Homo sapiens: one gene and its partners. The protein of the gene in region 1 purifies or fractionates together with the protein of each later gene. This does not show direct contact. Each region holds a gene or a part of one and is shown in the gene's direction. Other genes may lie near its edges. The genes, in order: VSIG1, UBE4A, GHITM and RANBP6.

Region 1 (7,492 bases):
GGCAGATCTTGACAAAAGGATGTTCATTGCACCATTGTCAATAATATTGAAAAACTGGAAACCATCTAAGAATTTACCAATAAGAGAATGATTAAATAAATTGAGGTACATTCATATCATGAAATACCATGCAGCCTTAACATGGACAAGGTTGATCTATAGATGCAGCTGGACCTAGTGACAGAAAGAGAGAATAAAAATACTTTTTTTAAGGGAGAAAAGCAAATTATAGAACAAAATGTACAGTATTATCATCTTTATGTTTTAAAAAACCTCGTGTGTGTGTGTGTGTTTGTGCATGTGTACATGCACAGAAAAAGGTCTGAGAAAAATGCTAAACTCCTGTTCCATGTGAGCCTGGGAAAGGGATTACATGTGTGAGTGAATGAATGGGACTTTTTTTCCTCTGTATCCTTGTTTGTCCTTTGAAAACCATTTACTATCAAAATGTATTACTTTTGTAATTTTTAAGTTAAAAATGAGGGATAAATCAGATATCACATATTTCTGAAAGTTCCCAAGGAAGAATACTGGGGGCAGTAGCATATTTGTTACATTACAATCACACCGTGCCATTGTGTGGTGTGATAGGAACAGCTTCTAATGCGTGCTATGGTGACCTTGGGAAAAGCACAGCACTTTTGAGCCTCAGTTTTCTTATATAGAAAATGTAGGTATACCTGACTTATTTGTTGTATTGGAAAGCTACATGTTCATTGAACCATTGTCAATAATATTGAAAAACTGGAAACCATCTAAGAATTTACCAATAAGAGAATGATTAAATAAATTGAGGTACATTCATATCATGAAATACCATGCAGCCTTAACATGGACAAGGTTGATCTATAGATGCAGTTGGACCCAGTGACAGAAAGAGAGAATAAAAATACCTTTTTTAAGGGAGAAAAGCAAATTATAGAACAAAATGTACAGTATTATCATCTTTATGTTTTAAAAAACCTCGTGTGTGTGTGTGTGTGTGTGTGTGTGTGTGTTTGTGCATGTGTACATGCATAGAAAAAGGTCTGAGAAAAATGCTAAACTCCTGTTCCATGTGAGCCTGGGAAAGGGATTACATGTGTGAGTGAATGAATGGGACTTTTTTTCCTCTGTATCCTTGTTTGTCCTTTGAAAACCATTTACTATCAAAATGTATTACTTTTGTAATTTTTAAGTTAAAAATGAGGGATAAATCAGATATCACATATTTCTGAAAGTTCCCAAGGAAGAATACTGGGGGCAGTAGCATATTTGTTACATTACAATCACACCGTGCCATTGTGTGGTGTGATAGGAACAGCTTCTAATGCGTGCTATGGTGACCTTGGGAAAAGCACAGCACTTTTGAGCCTCAGTTTTCTTATATAGAAAATGTAGGTATACCTGATTTATTTGTTGTATTGGAAAGCTACAAAGATAAAATGGAAAATTAGTTTAAAAATTATAAAGCTCTATAAAACTGCAAAGGATATTTAATATTTCGTGTCCTAGTTAATGACCCACTTTTTAAGCAATAGTTAATAACATCAAAATCCAGGTCCAAGCAGAGAGTTTAAATTCTCTTTTAGAGTTTGTTATAACAGAATTCTTCCTGTCCTGGTTAGGTCTTACATAGCAGCAGTATAGATATTTTACTTAAATATTCCAGAGTGTTTTGTGTTTGCACAACAGATTTTGGTGCAGATGGGTTTGGGCAATATCCTTAAATCATACCCTCTGCTGCACTCATCTTAGGGCCAACCAACTCAGACATACTGAATTAATTAGCAAGCTCTTACTTAGCACCTACTTTGTGCCTAGTAATCCCCTGTGGGTAGGTAACCAGACACCCAGGTTTGTCTGGCACTGTTACTGTTTATGCTGTCTTTCCCAGGTAATTGCTAATAGTGCCCCTTTCACTTTCAAAAGTGTCCTAGTTTTAATGATCAATGGTCACACTACTATAATCACTTATGGGGCATGGAAGGAAACACAGGAAGCTTCTGGCTTACAAATGCCAGACTTATAAATTTCGCTCCCCATCCCACGTCCTCACCACTGGAACTACCGGTATTACTTCCAGGGTGGGGGGCATTGTGAAAACTATGGGTCTTTTAGAGACTTGGTGGACTTAGAAGTCAAGGCAGAACCAAGCCTGAGAAAAGGTGGTATGGATCTCCAGAGACCCACCCTACAAGTTGTCCTCCTTTGCAAAATCTTCTCCCTCAAACTATTTCTCTTTATTGCATTGCCTAATTCTCCTGGTCAGAGATTTATGTGAGGAAAGTAAGCACTGTATTTTTAATAGCACAAACAGGTTGGAGAATGTTCAATGAAACGTTTTTTTTTCCCTTCCTAACATGGAGCTGCTGTCTGCTTATACAGGGGAAAGGGAGGGTTTCTGGGAGGAATAGAGGTGAAAAGGAAAAAGTAATTTTGGAGCATGAGATATTCTGGGGAATGAGACTCTCCCTTAGGGCAAACTAGGGACCCAGGAGCCAGGGGGCCGTGAAGGTGGGAGGCAGAAGAGAAGGTGGATGTCAGAGACATGCAATAGTTATTTGGGGGAAAATGTTGATTTGTGCACAAGTCATATCTTGGGAAATGAAAGGAACGTTCTTTCTCTGTCACCTGCTGTTCCTCCTCACCCTCCACTGCCTTATACGGCCCAGTACGCAGAATTCAAGCCAGTGCTAGATTATGTGCTACATGCCTGACAGTGAGACTCATATTATAACATTGCTTCTGCAGGAGTTCTTGCGTGCAGTCAACGAGTTTACCATTACATCTTGGGACACGCTCATTTTAAAGTTGGGAACTGCCTGTATAAGACATGGTCCCTACCCTGGAGGGATTCACAGTGACTAGATTTAAGGTAGACCAGTTAATAAATGCGAAACTACTGGAGAATAATCAATGGTCAGCTGTAGGATATTGGCTTTAAGTAAAATGGAAATTTATGCTAGGGTGGTATGTCGGTTCATTGAAATTCTCACATAGGACAGTATGACTGATCTATGCTAAGAATATACTTGGCTAGTAAGAGGAGGAAGAAGAAAACTCTAGTGATGGAAATCACCTGGAGCCAACGTTTGGCATCAGACATGAGCATGGACAGGATAGGCTGCAAGGAGGAATCAGGCATGATGGAAGCAAAATGGCTTTCTAAGAAGCAGTGGGAGATTGGAATGGCTAAAGTAAGATGGGGTCAAACATTTCCTGTAAATTAAAGACAGGAACATAAAACATATCACTTGAAATTTGTACACATTTCATGTGACTGAACACTTTGAGGCAATAAATCTTGACATACTTTTTCAGGGGCATGAGTTAATGTGGCTAAAGTTCAGATGAGGTGAGGATCAGATATTGGAAGAATGGGAATCCATATTAAGGACTTTGGATTTGATGAAAGAGTCCATTTATGGTGTTACTGGAAATATTTCACTAGGGCTGGAACATTGGCCTGCGGCTGGCACACAGGATGAAGGTGGAATAAGTCAGGGAGACCACTTAGGAAGCTGCTATGATAGGCCAAAGTGGGAAGCTGAGTACCTGGACCAAGATGGAAGCAGCAGATTGGAGAAAGAACACATCTGAAAGTCGCTGTGGAGATGGAAATGATAGGACTTAGAAATCACATGGGAAGAGCCAGAGAAAGTCCTTAGGTTTCTCCGGGTAACTTAAGCATAATAGGAACACTATTAGAAGTTCATGTTCCCATGAAAGTTCCTTACCTGTGGAGCCTCCCATGCCCTCCTGGTGAACCTCCATTTCTAAGGAAACCCTATAGCATTTACTGAGTATCTTAATTCTCCAAAAAATCAGACTTCTCCAAAGAAAGTCTTTAAGCATGTATTCACTAACTTGATTTTGCAAAATTACGTTAGCAAATACGTGCTATAAGGTTTCTAACCCGACAGACAAAAGCATGTAAATCATTTTACTGCTAGTTTTGGTGGAGGGTAGTGACAACTGCCAGTGTTTCAAAAAAGAGTAACATATCCAGAGTTTGTTCACACAGAAATGAATGCTTTTTAGCTTCATAACCCCTGTGCCCTTCCCGTGAGCCCCATCTCCCCAGGAAACGATATAGTACCAATTTACTAACTTAATTTGTAAAAGGAGGTTAGTGAATCAATTCTGTAAGACTCATGGAAATATTTGAAATTAATTAGCCTTGTCAGCTTTTATTTGCATAGGCTCTCTTCCAACCATATCCCCCAGCCCAAGTACAACGTTTTAGTAAGATTGATTTTAAACAATGAGACTTAGAGAATCTGTGTACAAGGAGCTTGAATAATTTAAATGCGTGGGTTTATTATTAACACAGTAGCAAATATATCAAGGAAACACGCCCCATGAAAAGTGTTTCAAAGAAACACAAATCTGTACTGAAAAAAGTCTATACGCAATAAGTAAGCCCAAAGAGGCATGTTTGCTTGGCGATGCCCAGCAGATAAGCCAGGCAAACCTCGGTGTGATCGAAGAAGCCAATTTGAGACTCAGCCTAGTCCAGGCAAGCTACTGGCACCTGCTGCTCTCAACTAACCTCCACACAATGGTGTTCGCATTTTGGAAGGTCTTTCTGATCCTAAGCTGCCTTGCAGGTAAGGAAAGGATCTCCAAACCACCAAATATAATTGGAAACAGAGTTTCCTTTTAAATAAAAATTCCACATTTTTACATAGAATTTTCATCTCCTGTACTTCAAATGAATTGTGATTAGTATGATGAGTTAATTTTCAGAACTCTTGCTTAGCAAACATATGCCATGCTGATATATTAGGGGTGTAAGCCCATAATATTATTGTTTTATGGAGCTTCTGAATGAAAATTTTCTCAGAAAAAAATATAGTTTATTACTTTACTTACTTTGAAAAGTGAAAAAAATGAATTTACTCAGAAACCAAACTTTGTGCTAGGGATAATTTTGTCTCTGTTTTACTTACTTTAGTGTTTCCTTTAAGCTCAGTGATTGACTTGCTCTAGCAGGCAGAGCCTGGGTTGGAGGGCCTGCCCTGGCTTACATATGGGAAGAACAGAAATTTACTGAGTACTTTACTGTCTAATATTTCTTAAGGAGTTGTGGTTTTCCAATCCTAAGACTGTATTTTGCAAAATATGTGAGTGATTTATGGTGCACAACATGGGTGATTTTAGGTATCTGAACAGAAGAAAATCAATTTTGGAATCAAAATACTGATGTTAGTTAGATCCAGGAGAGATCATTAATTCCAAAAATCCCTTGGGTAGTTTTCAAATATCAGATACATTTTGCATCTGTTCTTATAAGTTAGGTCCATAGTAAATACAATAATATTGTTTATCCAAAAACAGGATTTTCAAGCCATTAGTAATATTAGGCAGTGGTTAGAATGAGGTTTACTAGGCGTATTAATGACATAAGAAAATACCCACGATAAAATATTAAGTGAAAAAGCAGGATGCACACATATGCCTAGAATAAATTACTAGAAGGTTATATACCGAAGTGCTCATGGTGGTTGCCTCTGGGTGATGGGATTATAGATGATTTTAATTTTATTTCCCAGCTTTTCATACTTCCTGGGTTTTCTACGAAGAACATTATGCTATTTTTATAATTAGAAAAAAGTGTTACTTTTCAAAGTGATCTCATGTTTAGAAATAGTTCTTTAAATGTTCATTACTAAATGTTTAAGCATAGATGTTTTATGGAGTTAAACATCACCAGAAGGCAATACTCCATTTGTCCAGTGACCTAACTAGGCCCTAGAGCTGGAAACACATGTTCCTATTTTCCCTTCTCCCCAGGCATATTCATTTAAATGTAACTTTAGATATGGAAGTTTTGTCTCTTCTTAAAGGGTTTCCAGTCATTAGCCAGTTGGGTCGACCCCTGGGCCTTCTGCATCAGCCCTCTAAGATCATACCTGTTTCCCTATGTGAAGCCTTGCCCTGGCCCATACTAGGCACAGGGTTTGGAACGGTTGTTAAGAACAGTTTTTTTTTTTTTTAACTGTACCTAACATACAAGTAATTTTTACTGATTATAAATGTAATGCATGGTCATTGTAGAAAGGTTGGAAATATGGAAATTTAAAATAAAATAAAAATCATCTGCAATTTTACCACTCAGATTTGGGTGAATTATTATTCTTTTATTTGCAGGTGTATATATTACATTTTAAAAATTGGGTTTATTCCTTGTATACTTTTTTATTGTTTAAAAAAATTGTTTAGCATCATGTCAGGATTTTATTTTATTGTGACTTTTAGAACAAGACCAATAAATACTTCAGAGTGTGTTTCCTAAGTTACTATATAACTGATTTTGTTGGTATATAGTGTACACTATATATCTACACACATATTATCTAGTTGGCCCAAAGCAGTAGTGTCAGTACAGCAAATTGTGGTATGCTCTATTGTCGTTTGCTGTGCTTACATATGTATTGAAGTCAGAGAAAGGATCACTTTAGTAATCTACACCTGTCATTAGCAGTGTTCATCAGTTGATCTGGACAACTGATAGTGTTTCCATCAATGTGCAATTTGATGTTCTTCCTGGACTTGTTTTGGAGAGAATGTCACTTTTTGGTGTTAAGCGTGGTGCCTAACACATAGTGGATGCATAGTAAATGTTTGTTGAAAGAATGAATTACTTTCCCAAATTCCAAACATCCAGACATCATTTTCACATACATATTTAAAATTGATTTTGATATAACTAAACAGGTCAGATTTTGCTTAAATCAAAATATTTTCAATGACTTCTTAGGAATTCTTAGGTTAAATTCTAATTCAGGAAAACGAGTTTTAATCAAACTTCTGCAAAAAATTTATGCATATCATTTTAGGTATTTGAAATATGTATTAGTCACCTCTTAGAAAGATATGTTAATGTGGGTTTCATTTTCTGGAGGTATATGCTATGCATTTTAAAGGAGTAATATATTTGAACTTTGAGTTTGCACTCAAATCCAAAAAAGTGAGTGATCATTTGATTATATTATTTCCTAAGTCAAAATGAATCTATTATATATGAAGTTGCTGGAAATTAAATCACTTCAAATCTATCAGATTAAATATGAATATTTGGGGGATATTTTGCTGTGGTACATTAGGAGGATAATAATCCTTCTATAAGCAAAATGTTTGCCACCTTGTAGGCATTAAATGAATGAACAATCACCACCAAAATACAAGACATTCTCTCTCTCTCTCTCTCTCTCTCTCTATATATATATATATATACATATATATATACATATATATACACATATATATATACATATATATATACACATATATATATACACATATATATATATACACACATATATATATATACACATATATATATACACATATATATATATACACATATATATATATATATACACACACATATATATATATATATATATATATATATATATATATATATACACATATATATATTCTTTTGAGACGAAGTTAAGTCTTGTTGCCCAGGCTGGAGTGCAATGGCACGATCTCGGCCCAC
Region 2 (7,897 bases), on another chromosome or scaffold:
ATACTAACCATGCTGAGTGTCCTGTCTTGTGTTTATTAACCATTCATATATTTTTAGTGAAATGTGTATCAAATCTTTTGCCCATTTTTAAGTTGACTTATTTGTTTGTCTTCTTACTATTGGGTTGCATATGTTTTTGATATAAGTCCTTTATCAGATATATGATTTGGAAATATTTTCTACCAATCTGTGGTTTGTTTTTCTTAATGGTGTCTTTTGAAGTGCAAAAGGTTTGAATTTTGAAGTACATTTTATTGATTTTTTCTTCTATATATTGTGCTTTTGGTATCATGTCTAATAAATCTTTACCAAACCCACAGTTACAAAGATTTTCTCCTGTCTTCTTTTTATACTTTTTACAGCTTTATGGTTTTAGCTCTAACAATAAATGTGATTTTGAACATACATAAGACTATTTGTAACAAACACAAATAAATTGAATTGTTGGGCACTTGTATTTGCATTTGTAATTTTATTAACTATTGCCAAATAGCAGTTGTAAACACGTACACACACACAAGTGTATATACACATATACATATATATACATATACATGTATGCATATATGCATATATACATATATGCATATATACACATATATACATATATACACATATACATATATGCATATATACACATATATACACATATACATATATGCATATATACACATATATACATATATACACATATACATATATGTATATATACACATATACGTATATGTGTATATATACACATATACGTATATGTATATATACATATATGTATATGTATATATACACATATACACATGTATATATACACATATACACATGTATATATACACATATGTATATATACACATATACACATATGTATATATACACATATACACATATATACACATATGTATATATACACATATACATATATGTATATATACACATATGTATATATACACATATACATATATGTATATATACACATATACATATATGTATATATACACATATACATATATGTATATATACACATATACACATATACACATACATATATGTGTATCTACACATATACACATATACACATATACGTATACGTGTATATACGTAGATACACATATACATATATACACACGTGTGTATATACGTATATACACAAGTGTGTATATACGTATACACACATATATGTGTGTGTATACGCATACACACATATATGTGTGTGTATACGCATACACACATATACGTATATATGACAGGGTCTTGCTCTGTTGCTAAGGCTGGAGTGCAGTGGCACAACATTGGCTCACTGCAGCCTCGACTGCCCAGGCTCAAGCAATCCTCCCACCTCAGCCTCCTGAGTAGCTGAGATTTCAGGCGTGTGCCACAATATCCAGCTAATTGCTTAATTTTTTTTATAGAGAGAGGGTCTCACTATGTTGCCCAGGCCAGTCTCAAACTCTTGGGGTCAAGTGATCCTCCCATCTCATCCTCCCAAAGTGCTGGGATTACAGGTGTGAGCCACTGTGCCCAGCCAGGTTGTACCAATATACACTACCAATAACAACAAACAAAAGTGCCTGTTACTCCATACATGTTCCAACAGTGTATTATTAAACTTTTGAATCATGCCAAACTGAATGGCTTCTCACTATAATTTTAGTTTACATTTTTCTTATTAAAAATTGGAGGCTAGGTGTGGTGGCTCATACCTGTAATCCCAACACTTCGGGAGGCCAAGGCAGGTGGATCACCTGAGGCCAGTAGTTTGAGACCAGCCCAGCCAACATGGCAAAACCCTGTCTCTACTAAAAATACAAAAAATTAGCTGGGTGTGGTGGTGGGTGCCTGTAAACCCAGCTACTCAGGAGGCTGAGGCAGGAGAATTGCTTGAACCTGGGAGGTGGAGGCTGCAGTGAGCTAAGATTGCACCATTGCACTCTAGCCTGGACAACAAGAGTGAAACTCCGTCTCAAAAAAAAAAAAAAAAAAAAAAAACTGGAGTAAACCATTTGTTTTTCCTTCTCATGATACATAAGTTCACATCTTTGGTCTTTTTCTTATTGACTTACACTAACCCCTTACATATTTGGGAAACTAGGTCTTTTGTGATATTAGTTGCAAGTCTTTTTCCAACTTTATGTGTTTTTTAACTTTGCTTTAAAAAACACATTGGTTAGTTTTTCACGCACACTTTACAATTATTTGCATGTAGTATAATTCACTGGTCTCCTATGGTCTCTAGGTTACGTTTCATATTTAGAAAGTCTTTCTCCATTTTAAAATTATCCTTTTTTAAAAGTTCCCCCATGAATTCCTCTAGCATTTTTATGGTTTTATTTTATGCATTTATATCTTTGACCCATCTCGAATTGATTTTAGCATCAGATCTAATGTAGTAACCAACTTTAAATACAGATAGTTACCCAGCTATTCCAGAAATATTATTGAATGATTCATTTTGCGTCCATTAATTTTAAATGCTGTTACAACCCCACTCGCCAGATTATAAGCTCCAAGAAGGAAAACACTTACGTTTTTTCACTATGGTATCCTTAGGAACTAGAACAGTGGTAGGCACACAAAGATTGCCCAGGGCTTTTTGTGTGTGTGTGGTAAAAGATATGTAACCTAAAATTTACCATTTTAACCTTTTTTTTTTTTTTTTTTGAGACAGAGTCTCACTCTGTCATCCAGGCACTCTAGCGCAGTGGCACGATCTCGGCTCACTGCAACCTCTGCCTCCCAAGTTCAAGCGATTCTCCTGCCTCAGCCTCCCAAGTAGCTGAGATTACAGGCGCACATCCACATGATCAGCTAATTTTTGTATTCTTAGTAGAGACAGGGTTTCACCATGTTGACCAGGCTGGTCTTGAACTCCTGACTTCAAGTGATCTGTCCACCTCGGCTTCCCATAGTGCTGGAATTACAGGCATGAGCCACTGCACCCAACCCCATTTTAACTATTTTTAAGTGTACCATTCAATGGCATTAAATATATCCACAATGTGTAGCCATCATCACTACCCATTTCAGAAATTTTTCATCCTCCTAAACAGAAACTTGGTACCCATTAGACAATAACTCCCATTCGCCTCTCCCTCCAATCCCTGGTGACCTCTATTATACTTTCTCTCTCAAGGAATGTGCCTATTCTGTGTACCACATATAAACTGAATCATACACTATTTAGTCCTTTCTGTCTGGCTCGTTTCAGTTAGCATAACGTTTTCAAGGTTCATCAATGTTTCAGCGTGTATCAGAACTTCATTCTTTTTCAAGGCTGAATAAGTCATCTGTAGCTATATACCATATTTTGTTTATGCATTCATCTGTTAATGAACATTCTGGGTTATTTCTACCTTTTGGTTATTATGAATAGTGCTACTGTAAATATATGTATACAAGTATCTGAGTTCCTGCTTTCAGTTATTTTGAACATCTATATCAAAGCGGAATTGCTTGATCATGTGGTTATACTATGTTTAACTTTTTGAGGAATCATCAAACTGTTTTTCCAAAAAGTCTGGACTATTTAACATTGCCATCAGCAACGCATACGGTTTCAATTTCTCCACATCTGCCAACAATTACTTTCCTTTTTTTTTATAGTAGCCATCCTAGTAGGTATTAAGTGGTATCTCATGATTTTTTTTTTCATTTCCCTAAAGACTAGTGGTGTTGAGCACTCTTTCATATGCTTATCCACCATTTGTACAGTTGGCCTTCCATATCTGTGGGCTCTGCATCTGTGGCTTCAACCAACCATGAATTGGAAATATTCCAAAACAAATTTCATCTGTATTGAACATGTACAGACTTTTTGTCATTATTCCCTAAACAATACAACACTATTTAGATTTATGTTGTATTAGGTATTATAAGTGATCTAGAGATGACTTAGTCATCTCTAGGATGACACAGGAGGATGTGCATAGGTTATATGCAAATACTGCATCATTTTATGTAAGGAACTTGAGCATCCTTGGATTTTGGTACCCAAGGGGGTCCTGAAACAAATCCCCCACAGATACCAAGTGGATAGTCATTCTCTTGGAATGTATCTTCTTTGGAGAAATGTCTATTCAAGTCCTTTGCCCTTTTTTGAACTGAACTGTTTGGGGGTTTTTCGTTCTTGTAGTTCTTTACATATTCTAGAGATGAATCCTTTATCAGATATATGAGTTGCAACTATTTTCTCTCAATCTGTGAATTTTCACTTGCACAGCGCTTTTAACTCTTGAAAATTATGCTGCTTCTATTATTTATGTGTATCCCGATCTCTTGCCCTCGTGACCCGCCCGTCTCAGCCTCCCAAAGTGCTGGGACTACAAGGCGTGAGCCACTGTGCCTGGCCATCTATGTGTATCTCAAAACAACCTTGTAGGATGTATACTGTCTCCACTTTACAGATAAGAAAACTGAAATCCAATCAAAGATAGCACACTCCAAAGATTGCTCCAAAGACAGCACAACAATAACAAACTTGTAGTTGTTATTGCTGTTAGTGTTATCCCTTTGAATAATAGAGAGTAACAGAAGCTGCTTCAAAAAGGTCTAGGACTGGTGGGAAAATAAGAGAGCAGACCCCCAACAGAGGTTGCGAGCAGAGCCAGGGATCACAGAGTTTTATCTGCCCTCGGTACGCTGATTTCCAAAACCCAGCCTCATATTCTATACTCCAAAGCGCACTGCCAGGTGGGCCAACTCCAGCCCCCACAATCCGATGCCAAGGCCACTTCTTGCCACTTCCTGCCCGCCTCCAGCCCGCCCCTAACAAGCTAGCGCATGCGCTGTAGGACTATTTGCGCGCCGTTCCCCCCGGTGAGCCTGCACACCGTGCTTCCGGCGCGGAGATGAACTTCCACATGCCCCGGCGCTTGTTGATGACGTAACTTCCGGTTGCTGTGCTGAGTCGGAAGTGGGAACCCTTCGGCCGCTGAGATTCTGTCGTGTCGTCGCTGCTGGCACTTCAGGCTCTGGTAAGACAGGCAATAGCTTCAGGGGACGGGGTCGTTGACTTTGCGTTGTGATATTTTCTGCTGGTCCAATGCCACTTCAAGCCTGTTCACTCTTATCTTCTCCAAATTCCTTCTCCTATGCTTTGCTAACCAGGGACCTTCTCCTTCTTGAACTTCGACCCTGTCTGATTTGGAACCCCTTACAGTGCCCCAGCTTCTGATGTCTCTTTGTACATTTCTGTCCCCATCTTTGCCAAGCCCCTCCTGGAAGAGGCCGGAGCGCTATCATTGCATTATCTTTTGACTTAACTTTCTCTAGAACGTGCCCCGGGCGGGTGGATCTCCCTCCTTCCCGCGAATCCCTTATGGAGCATGGAAGGATAAAATATAAAGAGTAGATAACAAATAGGCAGATGCCAAGAAGATAAGATTAATCGTGAGTCGTAAGCAAACCAGTTCAATGCATACGTCAGGGTGTTGATAATTCTTAAGGCAGGTGATGAGTTCACCACAGATAACTCTTGGGGCACTCTGCTTCATGTTTCCTTGGGTTTAGAAGACACTTCTAAAATTGAGTGACCATGCCTCATGACCTTATATTTGATGAGCCTTCCTTTTAGGATCAGTTTTATGCCCTGACAGCAAGCATGTGTTTAGTCTCGCTGTCATTTACTGTTTTGGTCTCACGTGGAAGCCCACCTGCGATAAAATGGGATCCAAGAAGGACTGCTGTCTGCTTTTTGACTTGAGATCCTTCTAGGCTGCAGATAGATGTGTTGATGGAATTTGTTGCCACATTAGCATGGCCTGATAGTGTTAGGTGAAACATACGACAACGAAAATTGTTTCTTAATTTCTATTTTAAATTGATATTTTAATTTCTATTTTATATTGATATATGTATTATTTGCCAGGACACAGACCTTATGGGAGTATGATTTGATAGAGCTTGATTTTGACGATCCCAGTTTTACAAAGTGTTCCAGATATTTCTGTTGAAAAACAATACCAAGTCTGATGTTAACACACTTGTGTGTTCATGAGAGCTGACAGTGGTCTTAAAGGATTAGTGGTACTATTCATAAACAAAAGCTTGTATTAGGAGGAAGTGACAGAATTTTGTAGGACAGCTATTATAGATATAGATCTTTGCAGCAAGTGTATCAGAGTGAAACTTGTTTTCAAGGAGGATATATTTTAAAAGAATCAAATCCAAAAGCTTCTAAGGTTGGTAGCTGTACCATCCCAAAGTGTCTGACAACAGGATAGTGTTGTATCTCTGTATGGCAGTTGAAAATAGGAAAAAAAATACATACATATATGTATGTATATATGTGTGTGTGTGTGTGTGTGTATTTTTTTTTTTTTTTTTTTGAGACAGAGTCTGGCTCTGTCACCCAGGCTCTGCTCTGGAGTGCAGTGGCACGATCTCAGCTCACGGCAACCTCCATCTCCCAGTTTAAAAGTGATTCTCCTGCCTCAGCCTCCCAAGTAGTGGGATTACAGCCTGGCTAAGGTGTGGTGGTATGCGCCTGTAATCGCTTTTAGTGGAGACGGGGTTTCACCACATTGGCCAGGCTGGTCTCAAACTCCTGACTTCAAGTGATCTGTCTGCCTTGGCCTCCCAAAGTGCTGGGATTACAGGCATGACCTACTGCGCCCGGCGCTGAAAATAGGAGATTATAAATCCCGAATGACATTATTGAATATTAAACAAAATATTTAGGTTTCATTTTATCGGACCTTTAGAGTGGGTGATTATCTGGGTACTCTTACTTTGGTAAGTCCATTGAACAAATCTAAACTGGCATCTCCACAAAGGTTCTCATCAAGTGATCAGTCCTCCTTTTTCCTGTAAAATTTTTCTATAAGTGACTACACAGTTTTAGCCCTTTTTTAATGAAAAAAAGTTTGTGCACAGATTTGACATACGTGTGAAAAAGATGAGCTTAGTGAAAGATAGGTGAGAACCTTTTTGTTTTTTACAGATAGTAGAGATGACAACAGAGACTTATTTCCATCCACCATTCTACACATGCCAAGATACCAAAGAACCAGTGTCTAGCCTGGTAGCTTGACCTTCCACTGCAACCTAAGACAAGTAGTAAAGCCCTTACCTTGAAGTAGGGTCATGGGTGATGCTGTTGATTACAAGGAGTTCAGAAAGAACTACATGTAAGATTGAAGCCATTCAATAACTACTTATTTAGGATTTTGTGATTGTGATGTATAATGCCAGACACAGAAGAAAGAATAATCAGATATGAACATGTAATCAGAAGAGCTTACAGCCTAGCAATGTAGAAGATCTGCTTAGAAATACAATGCAGAAAGTTTAAAATCCTAGTAAAAATAGAGGTAAAATGTAGAAAGCTAGTTTCTTTATACAGTGCAACAGTATAGTATTGAGAAAGAAGGAAGTAATGCAGTTTATGGTGATAAATTCTTTTTGTTTCTCTTGATAGTCTTTTTGTTTGTTTGTTTGTTTGAGACAGTTTCCCTCTGTTGCCCAGGCTGGAGTGCAGTGGCAACGATCTTGTCTCACTGCAACCTCCGCCTCCCAGGTTCAAGCAATTCTCCTGCCTCAGCCTCCTGAGTAGCTGAGATTCCAGGTGCACGCCACCATGCCTGGCTAATTTTTTGTGTGTTTTAAGTAGAGATGGGGTTTCTCCATGTTGGTCAGGCTGGTCTTGAACTCCTGACCTCATGATCTGCCCGCCTTGGCCTCTCAAAGTGCTGGGATCATAAGCATGAACCACTGTGCCCGGCCTTCTTGATAGTCTTAAGAGCTTCTCTGTCATATGTCCTATATTCCTGGCTTTCAGCTTCCTTTCTGCTTACGTGTTGCAGGTGATGCATGTCCTTTGTAATAATCTGGACACTTTTCAGTTGTGTTTTAAAAAACATCAAACTGGTTTAGGCATTTAGGGAAATTTTATTGGTTTTTATAACTG
Region 3 (4,593 bases), on another chromosome or scaffold:
GGAGTTCCATTTACCTTTGTTGAATTACTGGTAAATTTTTTACGAAATTGTTTATAAATATCTGACAACTAAAATTACTTATTTATAAGCTGTTAGCAGTCCTTATTACATAAAGAAACAGCAGTGTCTGTCTTAGAAGTTCCCACATTTTAAGTTTATCATCATATGCTTTCCCTTTTGACAGCAGTAGGTTTGACCTTGAGTTATTTGTTTTAAGCTTGTTTATCTCAATTATTATATGAATGTTGTAGAAACTAGTGGTAAGCTCAGATTCAAATAGCTACATGGAATTTGATGGTTACTAAATAAGTAGATTAGTGTTTGCTTGTGAGTGTGATTGATTAGGAATAGTGTTAATGTTGTGATATAGAATTTGAGTAGTCACCAATTTGGGCTGTAGAATTTGGTGGGGGTAGTATTATCTAAAGGCAGAACTTTTTGAATCATAGTGCTTAAACAGTAAGGTATAATATAAAGTGGCATGTTAGAAGTGATATTTTCCTTTTGCTTGTTATTTAGTAAATACTTAATGAGCACTTCCTCTTTCTCCAGGTGTGATGGGTGCAGTGGTGGCTCCTCTGACAATATTAGGGGGTCCTCTTCTCATCAGAGCTGCATGGTACACAGCTGGCATTGTGGGAGGCCTCTCCACTGTGGCCATGTGTGCGCCCAGTGAAAAGTTTCTGAACATGGGTGCACCCCTGGGAGTGGGCCTGGGTCTCGTCTTTGTGTCCTCATTGGGTAAGCTGCTGTGTTTTAACACTTAATTCTTGGTGCATAGTTTCCTGTAACCTGAAATACTCCAATATCCTAATTGATTGAGTCATTTATTTTAAAAGTTTTTTTAAAGATTTATGCTAATTTGACTGGATTTTACTACCTGACATCATATAAAAATCATGGCAACATGGTCAACCATTATTACTGGCTTTACCAAACACATCTAAAATGGGAAAGTTGGTCTGGAGAACATGAATATTGCTCTGATGCAAGAACCTTCCTGTGAAATGGGCAAGTGGCTCATTGGAGGAATGAGTATCATGGATTTTGAACTAATGCAAATAAGATTAGACAGTACATGTACCCAGATGTCGTCTTACCTACACAGTATACCAAGGAGATTTTTTTTTAAGTAATATAAATCATAAACTCAGTTATCGGAAATCCTTTTTTAAAAAAAATCTTGTTTTCGCATTTTGATTTCAGGATCTATGTTTCTTCCACCTACCACCGTGGCTGGTGCCACTCTTTACTCAGTGGCAATGTACGGTGGATTAGTTCTTTTCAGCATGTTCCTTCTGTATGATACCCAGAAAGTAATCAAGCGTGCAGAAGTATCACCAATGTATGGAGTTCAAAAATATGATCCCATTAACTCGTAAGTAATGCTTTTTATTTAACACTGTTACTCTGTCACATAAGGATGCTTGTGTGTATTTGACCTGTTTTGGTTTATGGCTGTATTAGTTTTCTAGGGATACTGTTAACAAAGTATCGCAGACTGGGTGGCTTAAAACAAAACTTGATTCTCTTGTAGTTCTGGAGGCCAGAAATCTAAAATCAAGGTGTTAGCAGAGTTGTACTTCTGAGGGCCCTGAGGGAAAATCTGTTCCCTGCCTCTCAGCTTCTTGTTACTGCTGGCAGTCCTTGACATTCCTTGGCTTGTAGATGGATCATTCCAGTCTCTGTCTCCATCTTCACATGGTGCTCTTCCTGTGTACCAGGGATTAGGATTTCATTATATTTTGTTGGGGGGCAGAGGAGGGTCACAGCTCAAACCACACCAATGGCTTTGTCAGATTTCCTGTTTTACTTCTGTTGCAGTTTTGTCTGTTCTCTCTTTAGTAAACTATCCAAAAAAACCTCTTGATTTTATTGCAACTTAGTGTAATACTTAGGTATTCATTCCATTATCAGAATATTTTGTCTATTTTTGTGAGCCAGTGTCAGGGTGCAATAAATAATGTGCTCTTACTGCTCAGTTAATTTTTTTGGTAGTGTATTTTGCAGACTTTAAAACTGAAGAAATGTATTAATCAAGTATTATTTATTGGAAAATGTATATAATTGACATGGAATTTTTAATAGAAAAGCCTATTTTATACTTCTAGAAATTAGAAACTCTTCAGTATAAAGAGTCTAGTTTCAGAGATATGCAACTTTAGTTGGTATTAATTGTTATTATGTTTTTTTCTTTTTTCTTGGAGTCGACCAAAGTGGGTTATTTTATTTAAACAATTTTCTTGAGTTTCATTGTGTCTGTCACATTTTTTTAAAGTAATTTGATTTTATCTAAAAATAAAACTTAATGTAATGGTTTAGGGGGAAGAAAAAGTTGCTGTACTGTAAAGCTTACAGATTTGTAGAAGTTTTCTTTAGAGGGGTGAAGTGGGTCTTTTATATTAAAAAATGCTAGACTTGTGTCTAACAGGTTTTTATAAAGGTGTTTCTTTGGTCTTGTTTTGATTATTTCATTGTCTGCCACCTAGTTTTCTTTGCAAGTTGATATATGCAGAGTGTCAGAGAATAAAATAATGATTTTTTTAAACTGCTCTTTAACATTTAAAAGATGAGTCTGCCAAAAGGAAGACCTTAACTATTTTCTAGTCTAGTACTTCATTAGTTGGCAGTTAAACATCTTATTTTTAATTTCCATTTTATATCACTAAGACAAATAGTATTTTTCTTCTTTTCTATATTAAGAATTCAACATCACTATTAGAATTGCATCATATATAATGGGCATAATTTTCTTTTCTAGGATGCTGAGTATCTACATGGATACATTAAATATATTTATGCGAGTTGCAACTATGCTGGCAACTGGAGGCAACAGAAAGAAATGAAGTGACTCAGCTTCTGGCTTCTCTGCTACATCAAATATCTTGTTTAATGGGGCAGATATGCATTAAATAGTTTGTACAAGCAGCTTTCGTTGAAGTTTAGAAGATAAGAAACATGTCATCATATTTAAATGTTCCGGTAATGTGATGCCTCAGGTCTGCCTTTTTTTCTGGAGAATAAATGCAGTAATCCTCTCCCAAATAAGCACACACATTTTCAATTCTCATGTTTGAGTGATTTTAAAATGTTTTGGTGAATGTGAAAACTAAAGTTTGTGTCATGAGAATGTAAGTCTTTTTTCTACTTTAAAATTTAGTAGGTTCACTGAGTAACTAAAATTTAGCAAACCTGTGTTTGCATATTTTTTTGGAGTGCAGAATATTGTAATTAATGTCATAAGTGATTTGGAGCTTTGGTAAAGGGACCAGAGAGAAGGAGTCACCTGCAGTCTTTTGTTTTTTTAAATACTTAGAACTTAGCACTTGTGTTATTGATTAGTGAGGAGCCAGTAAGAAACATCTGGGTATTTGGAAACAAGTGGTCATTGTTACATTCATCTGCTGAACTTAACAAAACTGTTCATCCTGAAACAGGCACAGGTGATGCATTCTCCTGCTGTTGCTTCTCAGTGCTCTCTTTCCAATATAGATGTGGTCATGTTTGACTTGTACAGAATGTTAATCATACAGAGAATCCTTGATGGAATTATATATGTGTGTTTTACTTTTGAATGTTACAAAAGGAAATAACTTTAAAACTATTCTCAAGAGAAAATATTCAAAGCATGAAATATGTTGCTTTTTCCAGAATACAAACAGTATACTCATGATTGCTAAGTGTTTTTTTATTTTTGCATATTTATTGAACTGTCTAATTGAATACAGCTTGCTCTTGTCACCTCTTCAAGCTTTCAAGCCTTTATAGAAAAGCTTCTTTGTGGCTTACACTGGAAATTATGAAAGCAGTTTTTCTCCTAAGACTTTTGGTTTCTCGCATTGCCTCTCAGACTAAGCACTAAAAAGCAAAGCAAAACAGAACTAGTTCTGTCTTAATGAAATATATCAACCCAAAAGTGTAATGAGGAAAATGCTTCATTAGTTTCCCCTAGCAGACTTTTACTTCTCTTACACTGCTACACCATTACTTTCTTGAGACATTTGTAAGTTCTTTGATACAGAAGAGTTATATTTAGAAGTCTTTAATGAAGGGAAAGAAGTCTGTATGATGACTGAGGTGATTGCTCTTTTTGACAAATGTTTATTACAGTAATGCAGAAATACTGTTAATCATCTCAAAGTACATAGGAGGCTTATTTCTGAAACAAAGGTTTCAGCCAGATGTTGATTAGTCTAATTTTTCCAAGTGAATCATATGCATGCCATTTGAATAGGGATTTCTTCAAGAAAGCAACTTAGTTTCTTGCCAGTATAGTATAGTGCAGTGTGATAAGTACATGATACTTGTAGCTAGACTACCTCTATTTGAATCTCAACTCTTATTTCTTATGTGACCTTGGGCAAATTACTTAACCTCTGTGTGCCCAGTTTCCTCTCCTGTAAAATGAATATATTGGAACCTGTCTTATAGGTTTATGGTTAAACGTGCAGGCACTTAGTAAGCATTACATAAGTCTTAGCTATTGATGCTTTTTTTTATTAGTAAAAATGTAAATGCCAATTTTCTATTTTTCTTCTCCCCATCCTGATACCCATATCAGTGTGATCTTAAAGTGCCTGTTTTCCTTAGTCA
Region 4 (7,281 bases), on another chromosome or scaffold:
CACCTGAAGGCCTCTCTGTGTCTGAAAAAGCTGTACCCTTTACTTAGAACAACTTTCTCTCTTTTCAAATGGTTAATGAGGACTCATTCTTCAAAAGTCAACTCTGATACCTCCTCTGGGAAGCCTTACTTGATCAACCCCATACCCAGAGTAAATTAGCTGCCTCCATAACCCCATATGGCTCCATGGCAGGCTTATCATTACTACAGTGATCACTACGCTATGTGACATTTACTATCTCTGTTTACTATGAGATTCACATATCTTCATGAATTTAGTCTTTAATACCAGCAACTCAGCACCATGCTTGAGTGTACCCTCAAAGAATGCTTGCTGAGAGACTAATTGAATAATTGCATACTCTTTTTCTTTCTTTTTGTTTTGAGACGCAGTCTCGCTCTGTCACCAGGCTGGAGTGCAGTGGTACAATCTTGGCTCACTGCAACCTGCGCCTCCCGGGTTCAAGCAATTCTCCTGCCTCAGCCTCCCAAGTAGCTGGGACTATAGGCACGCGCCACCACGCCCAGCTAATTTTTGTATTTTTAGTAGAGATGGGGTTTCACCATGTTGGCCAGGATGGTCTCAATCTCCTGACCTTGTGATCCGCCCAACTCGGCCTCCCAAAGTGCTGGGATTACAGGCATGAGCCACTGCACCCGGCCAAATAATTGCATAATCTTAACCCAGAATTTTTCAAACATTTTTTTCTTTTTCTTTTTTCTTTTTTTTTTTTTTTTGAGATGGAGTCTCCCTCTGTCACCCAGGCTGGAGTGCAGTGGTGTGATCTTGGCTTACTGCAACCTCCGCCTCCTGGGTTCAAGCAATTTTCCTGCCTCAGCCTCCCTGAGTAGCTGGGACTACATGCGCACACCACCAAGTCCAGCTAAATTTTTTGTATTTTTAGTAGAGACGAGGTTTCACCATGTTGGCCAGGCTGGTCTCGAACTCCTGACCTCAGGTGATCTGCCCAACTTAGCCTCCCAATAGCCTCCCAAAGTGCTGGAATTACAGGCATGAGCCACTGCGCCCAGCTCATTTTTTTCAAAGAGGTTGTACCAATTTACCTATACTCTCAACAAAAATATAACTGAGTTTCCTGTTGTTCCACATCCTCAGCAACCCTTGGCTTTGTCAGACTTTTAAAGCATTGTGGTAGGTCTGTGGTGGTGTATCACTGTGGTTTTTTTCAATGTCTTTCATATGCTAGTGGATATAGTATTAAGTAATTAATTAATTATTATTAACATTTCCTGAAACGGCAAATGCAAAGTCCCTCCAGTTAGACTTTTTGAAGGAACAGTAAGAAAACCAATGAATGGGCCAGGTGTGGTGGCTCATGCCTGTAATCCTAGTACTTTAGGAGGCTGAGGCAGGTGGATCACTTGAGGTCAGAAGTTTGAGACCGGCCTGGCCAACATGATGAAACCCTGTGTCTACTAAAAATATAAAAATTAGCTGGGTGTGGTGGTGCATGCCTGTAATCCCAGCTACTCAGGAGGCTGAGGCAGGAGAATTGCTTGAACCCAGGAGGCAGAGGTTGCAGTGAGCTGAGATCGTGCCATTGCCCTCCAGCCTAGGTGACAGAGCGAGACTCCATCTAAAAAAAAAAAAAAAACAAAGAAAGAAAGAAAACCAATGAATGCACAACTGTAGTCATAATCTTAGAACCAGAATTGATCTTATCAGCGATTCTCAAATGTTGGTATTTATATAAAAACCCAATGTGCTGGTTGAAATTGTACATTCTTAGTCCTCAGTCCCCCCAGAATTCTGGGTTAATAGGAACTTGGGCCCTAACATCTATATTTTAAAATAGGTATCCCAAGCAATTCTAATGCAGTTGGTTTTCAGTCTACAGAATGAGAAATTCTATTTTAGAAAATAGCTCTGTTTCATATTACAGTGTCTTTTTTATGAGACAGAGTCTTGCTGTGTCGCCAGGCTGGAGTGCAGTGATGCAATCTCGGCTCACTGCAACCTCTGCCTCCCAGGTTCAAGCGATTCTCCTGCCTCAGCCTCCCGAGTAGCTGGGACTACAAGCATGTGCCACCACGCCCAGCTAATTTTGGTACTTTTAGTAGAGACGGGGTTTCACCGTGTTGGCCAGAATGGTTTTGATCTCTTGATCTCGTGATCTGCCTGCCTCAGCCTCCCAAAGTGCTGGGATTACAGGTGTGAGCCACCATGCTCGGCTACAATGTAATTTATGAGACTACCTACTTTGTCTATCATCTGGTTAATGTAAAAGCTACGACTTTCTAATTTTTGTGGGTATATGCGGCAGCACTTTACAAAAACAAAATTAAGGCTGCTTGGAAAAGTTTAAGACAGAATTTGCAGTAAGTGAAGCCTCTGATCATGCTGCAAAACCAAGAGTAGTTAATGGGGAAGCAATATGGTGAAAAGAGCATCAGTGTCACTTTCAGAAGAGGTAGAATTGAGACTCAGGTGTGTCATCCTAGGCAAATCCTGTAACTTCCCTTAGTTTCCACTTCTCACCTAAATTTAGTATTATATCTATCCTAGCAATCTCTCAATTCTGTATAAGGGTCAAAATGAGTGTGGCAAGTGCTAATACAAAAGTAAGACCTAATCATTGTTATAGGAATGAAACTTGTTTTTGATTGACACACCTGCCTGAATTAAAGAAACAAACTGGCCAGGCGCGGTTGCTTACACCTGTAATCCTAGTACTGTGGGAGGCCGAGGCGGGTGATCTCTCACGAGGTCAACAGATCGAGACCATCCTGACCAAACATAGTGAAACCCCGTCTCTACTAAAATACAAAAATTAGCTGGGCGTGGTGGCATGCGCCCATAGTCCCAGCTACTCAGGAGGCTGAAGCAGGAGAATTGCTTGAACCCAGGAGGCAGAGGTTGCAGTGAGTTGAGATCGCACCACTGCACTCCAGCCTGGCGACAGAGCGAGACTCCATCTCACAAAAAAAAAAAAAAAAAAAAGAAACAAATTTAGTTTCATCAACATTTGTTTCTTGGAATAACCTCAGCAGCTTCCCACTAATGGTTAGTTAGGATTCTAGTTAACCGCATCCCTTCATATTTCAGTTTAGACAAGATGCAAGGAAAATCTTGAGTAACTTGTCCTAGGATACAAAATTAATTTAGTGACAAGGCCAGGATGCAAGTCTGTCTTCTGATTATTAGTTCAGATCACTTTCTACCATACTTTACTCAGTTGTCTTTCCCATTCTTTATTATAACCAACAGGCCAGGTGATTCTGACACACACCAGATTTTGAGCTACCACTCTACTGCATTAGATGTGGTAGTGGGGAAGTAATTATTATTTTATTATCACACTTATTATTTTATAAAGCTTTATTGTAGTATTATTTATATGCCATACAATTCACCAATTTAAATTTAACAACTCAATGGTTTTTAGTATAATCACAGAATTGTGCAACCATCACAATTAATTTTAGAACATTTCATCACTCAGAAAGAAACACCCTATTTGATAGCAGTCATTCTCTATCCTCCCCTCCCCCCAACCTCTGGCAACCACTAATTTCTGTTATACAATTTGCCTGTTTGGTACCTTTCATACAAATGGAATCATACAATATGTGGTTGTGACTGGTTTCTTTCACTTGGCATGTTTTCAAGATAGACTTATTGTTTTAAAATTATCAAAGTAACAATATAGTTTAGAAATAAAAGAAAAAAATCACTCATAATCTGACCAGAAGCAGTGGCTCACACCTGTATTCCCAGTACTTCGGGAGGCCGAGGCGGGCAGATCACCTGAGCCCAGGAGTTCGAGACCAGCCTGGGCAACATGGCGAAACCCTGTCTCTATAAAAAACACAATTAGCCGGGCGTGGTGGCGCGCGCCTGTGGTCCCAGCTACTGGGGGAACTGAGGCGGGGAGGATCGCTTGAGCCCAGGAGGTTGAGGCTGCAGTGAGCAGGGATCGCGCCGCTATACTCCAGCCTAGGTGACACAGCCAGACCTTGTATCCAAAAAAAAAAAAAGTCATGATCCCATTCTAATCAATGCTTTTCTTCTCTCGCCTGCAAGTGCACGTTTATCTTATTGAAAAACAAATGGAGGATGCCATTGGCCTCCACACGGCTCTCACCTCTCTCCAAAACCTAGCTCGCAGCCTGCCAGAGCGCAGCTAGAGTTTCTGGGCAGAGGAGGGAGAAGCACCCCGCCCATCCCCGCCGGCGCCTCGCCTACGTCACTGCTTCGAGCCGCAGACCCCCTCCCTCCTTCCCGGTCGCGGTAGCTTTGACAGAGCGCAATGGCGGCAACCGCGTCTGCAGGGGTGCCGGCGACCGTGTCAGAAAAGCAAGAGTTTTACCAGCTTCTGAAGAACCTGATCAATCCAAGCTGTATGGTGCGGAGGCAAGCAGAGGAAATCTATGAAAATATCCCAGGTCTGTGTAAGACTACCTTCCTCTTAGATGCCGTCAGAAATAGAAGAGCAGGTTATGAGGTGAGACAAATGGCTGCCGCACTGCTACGACGGCTTTTGTCCTCTGGGTTTGAGGAGGTTTATCCAAATCTGCCTGCTGATGTTCAGAGAGATGTCAAGATTGAACTGATTCTGGCTGTTAAGTTAGAAACACATGCTAGCATGAGGAAAAAACTTTGTGATATTTTTGCAGTGCTGGCCAGGAATTTGATAGATGAGGATGGCACTAACCACTGGCCGGAAGGTCTGAAGTTTCTTATTGATTCAATCTACTCCAAAAATGTGGTTCTATGGGAAGTTGCACTTCACGTTTTCTGGCACTTTCCTGGGATTTTTGGGACCCAAGAGCGGCATGATTTGGATATCATCAAACGGTTGTTGGACCAGTGTATTCAAGATCAAGAACATCCAGCAATCAGGACATTATCCGCTAGAGCTGCAGCTGCATTTGTACTTGCTAATGAGAATAATATTGCTCTTTTCAAAGACTTTGCAGACTTGCTTCCTGGAATCTTACAGGCTGTGAATGACTCATGCTACCAGGATGATGATTCAGTGCTAGAATCCCTTGTTGAGATTGCAGATACCGTACCTAAGTACTTGGGTCCTTATTTAGAAGATACTCTACAGTTGAGTTTGAAGTTATGTGGAGACTCTAGGCTTAGTAATCTGCAGCGCCAGCTGGCCCTCGAAGTTATAGTGACCTTGTCTGAAACTGCCACTCCGATGTTGAAAAAACATACAAATATTATTGCACAGGCAGTTCCTCATATATTAGCAATGATGGTTGATCTACAAGATGATGAGGACTGGGTAAATGCTGATGAAATGGAAGAAGATGATTTTGACAGCAATGCAGTTGCTGCGGAGAGTGCACTAGACAGACTGGCTTGTGGGCTTGGTGGAAAAGTTGTTTTACCAATGACCAAGGAGCATATCATGCAGATGCTTCAGAGCCCTGACTGGAAGTATCGACATGCTGGATTAATGGCCTTATCTGCCATTGGAGAAGGATGCCATCAACAAATGGAATCAATTCTAGATGAAACAGTTAACTCCGTTTTGCTTTTTCTTCAGGATCCTCATCCAAGGGTGAGGGCTGCAGCCTGTACTACACTTGGACAGATGGCTACAGATTTTGCACCTAATTTCCAAAAGAAATTTCATGAAACAGTGATTGCAGCTCTGTTACGTACCATGGAAAATCAAGGTAATCAGCGTGTGCAATCACATGCAGCTTCTGCTCTTATTATTTTTATTGAAGACTGCCCTAAATCATTGCTAGTTCTATATGTGGATAGTATGGTGAAAAATCTACATTCCGTCTTGGTGATTAAACTTCAAGAGTTGATTCGGAATGGAACTAAGTTGGCTTTGGAACAACTTGTGACAACCATTGCATCAGTTGCAGATACAATAGAAGAAAAATTTGTCCCATATTATGATATATTCATGCCCTCACTAAAGCACATTGTTGAGCTTGCTGTTCAGAAGGAACTCAAGCTTCTGAGAGGAAAAACTATCGAGTGCATTAGCCATATTGGTCTTGCTGTTGGGAAGGAAAAATTTATGCAAGATGCATCAAATGTGATGCAGCTGTTGTTGAAGACACAATCAGACTTAAATAATATGGAAGATGATGACCCTCAGACCTCTTACATGGTTTCAGCATGGGCTAGAATGTGTAAAATTCTTGGAAAAGATTTTCAACAGTACCTTCCACTGGTTATCGAGCCTCTTATTAAGACTGCTTCAGCTAAACCTGATGTTGCTCTCTTAGACACACAGGATGTGGAAAATATGAGTGACGATGATGGCTGGCAATTTGTAAATCTTGGAGACCAGCAGAGTTTTGGAATTAAAACTTCAGGACTTGAAGCAAAAGCAACTGCTTGCCAAATGTTGGTTTACTATGCTAAGGAGTTAAGGGAAGGGTTTGTGGAATATACAGAACAAGTTGTGAAGCTGATGGTTCCTTTACTGAAATTTTATTTCCATGACAATGTTCGAGTGGCAGCAGCAGAGTCCATGCCTTTTCTCCTGGAATGTGCAAGAATTCGTGGCCCAGAGTATCTTGCACAGATGTGGCAATTCATATGTGACCCCTTAATCAAGGCTATTGGTACTGAACCAGATACAGATGTGCTCTCAGAAATAATGAATTCTTTTGCAAAGTCCATTGAAGTTATGGGAGATGGTTGCCTTAATGATGAACACTTGGAAGAACTGGGAGGAATACTGAAAGCAAAACTTGAAGGGCACTTTAAAAACCAAGAATTGAGACAGGTGAAAAGACAGGAAGAAAACTATGATCAACAGGTTGAGATGTCTCTGCAAGATGAGGATGAATGTGATGTTTATATTCTGACCAAAGTATCAGATATTTTGCACTCATTATTTAGTACTTATAAGGAAAAGATTTTACCATGGTTTGAACAACTACTTCCATTAATTGTAAATCTAATTTGTTCAAGTAGGCCATGGCCAGACAGACAGTGGGGATTGTGCATATTTGATGACATCATAGAGCACTGCAGTCCAACTTCATTTAAATATGTAGAATATTTTCGGTGGCCAATGCTACTAAATATGCGAGATAACAACCCTGAAGTCAGGCAAGCTGCTGCTTATGGCCTGGGTGTCATGGCACAGTTTGGTGGAGATGATTATCGTTCTTTATGTTCAGAAGCTGTTCCACTTCTGGTAAAAGTTATTAAGTGTGCAAATTCCAAAACCAAAAAAAATGTCATTGCTACAGAGAACTGTATCTCAGCAATAGGGAAGATTTTGAAGTTTAAGCCTAACTGTGTAAATGTAGATGAAGTTCTTCCACACTG

The links.
Region 2: the proteins of VSIG1 (region 1) and UBE4A purify together in Homo sapiens (co-immunoprecipitation; 3 studies listed by BioGRID and IntAct, with this or other methods). This does not show direct contact.
Region 3: the proteins of VSIG1 (region 1) and GHITM purify together in Homo sapiens (co-immunoprecipitation; 3 studies listed by BioGRID and IntAct, with this or other methods). This does not show direct contact.
Region 4: the proteins of VSIG1 (region 1) and RANBP6 purify together in Homo sapiens (co-immunoprecipitation; 3 studies listed by BioGRID and IntAct, with this or other methods). This does not show direct contact.

What each region holds. Positions count from the first base shown.
Region 1 is NC_000023.11:108,040,588-108,048,079, forward strand, and holds the start of VSIG1 (V-set and immunoglobulin domain-containing protein 1 isoform 2 precursor), read left to right. Parts: upstream 1-4,477; 5' UTR 4,478-4,543; coding exon 4,544-4,592; intron 4,593-7,492.
Region 2 is NC_000011.10:118,354,711-118,362,607, forward strand, and holds the start of UBE4A (ubiquitin conjugation factor E4 A), read left to right. Parts: upstream 1-4,889; 5' UTR 4,890-4,964; intron 4,965-7,897.
Region 3 is NC_000010.11:84,149,503-84,154,095, forward strand, and holds the end of GHITM (growth hormone-inducible transmembrane protein), read left to right. Parts: intron 1-552; coding exon 553-741; intron 742-1,206; coding exon 1,207-1,378; intron 1,379-2,761; coding exon 2,762-2,846; 3' UTR 2,847-4,066; downstream 4,067-4,593. UniProt on the Homo sapiens protein: Plays an important role in maintenance of mitochondrial morphology and in mediating either calcium or potassium/proton antiport. Mediates proton-dependent calcium efflux from mitochondrion.
Region 4 is NC_000009.12:6,012,597-6,019,877, reverse strand, and holds the start of RANBP6 (ran-binding protein 6), read left to right. Parts: upstream 1-4,253; 5' UTR 4,254-4,270; coding exon 4,271-7,281. UniProt on the Homo sapiens protein: May function in nuclear protein import as nuclear transport receptor.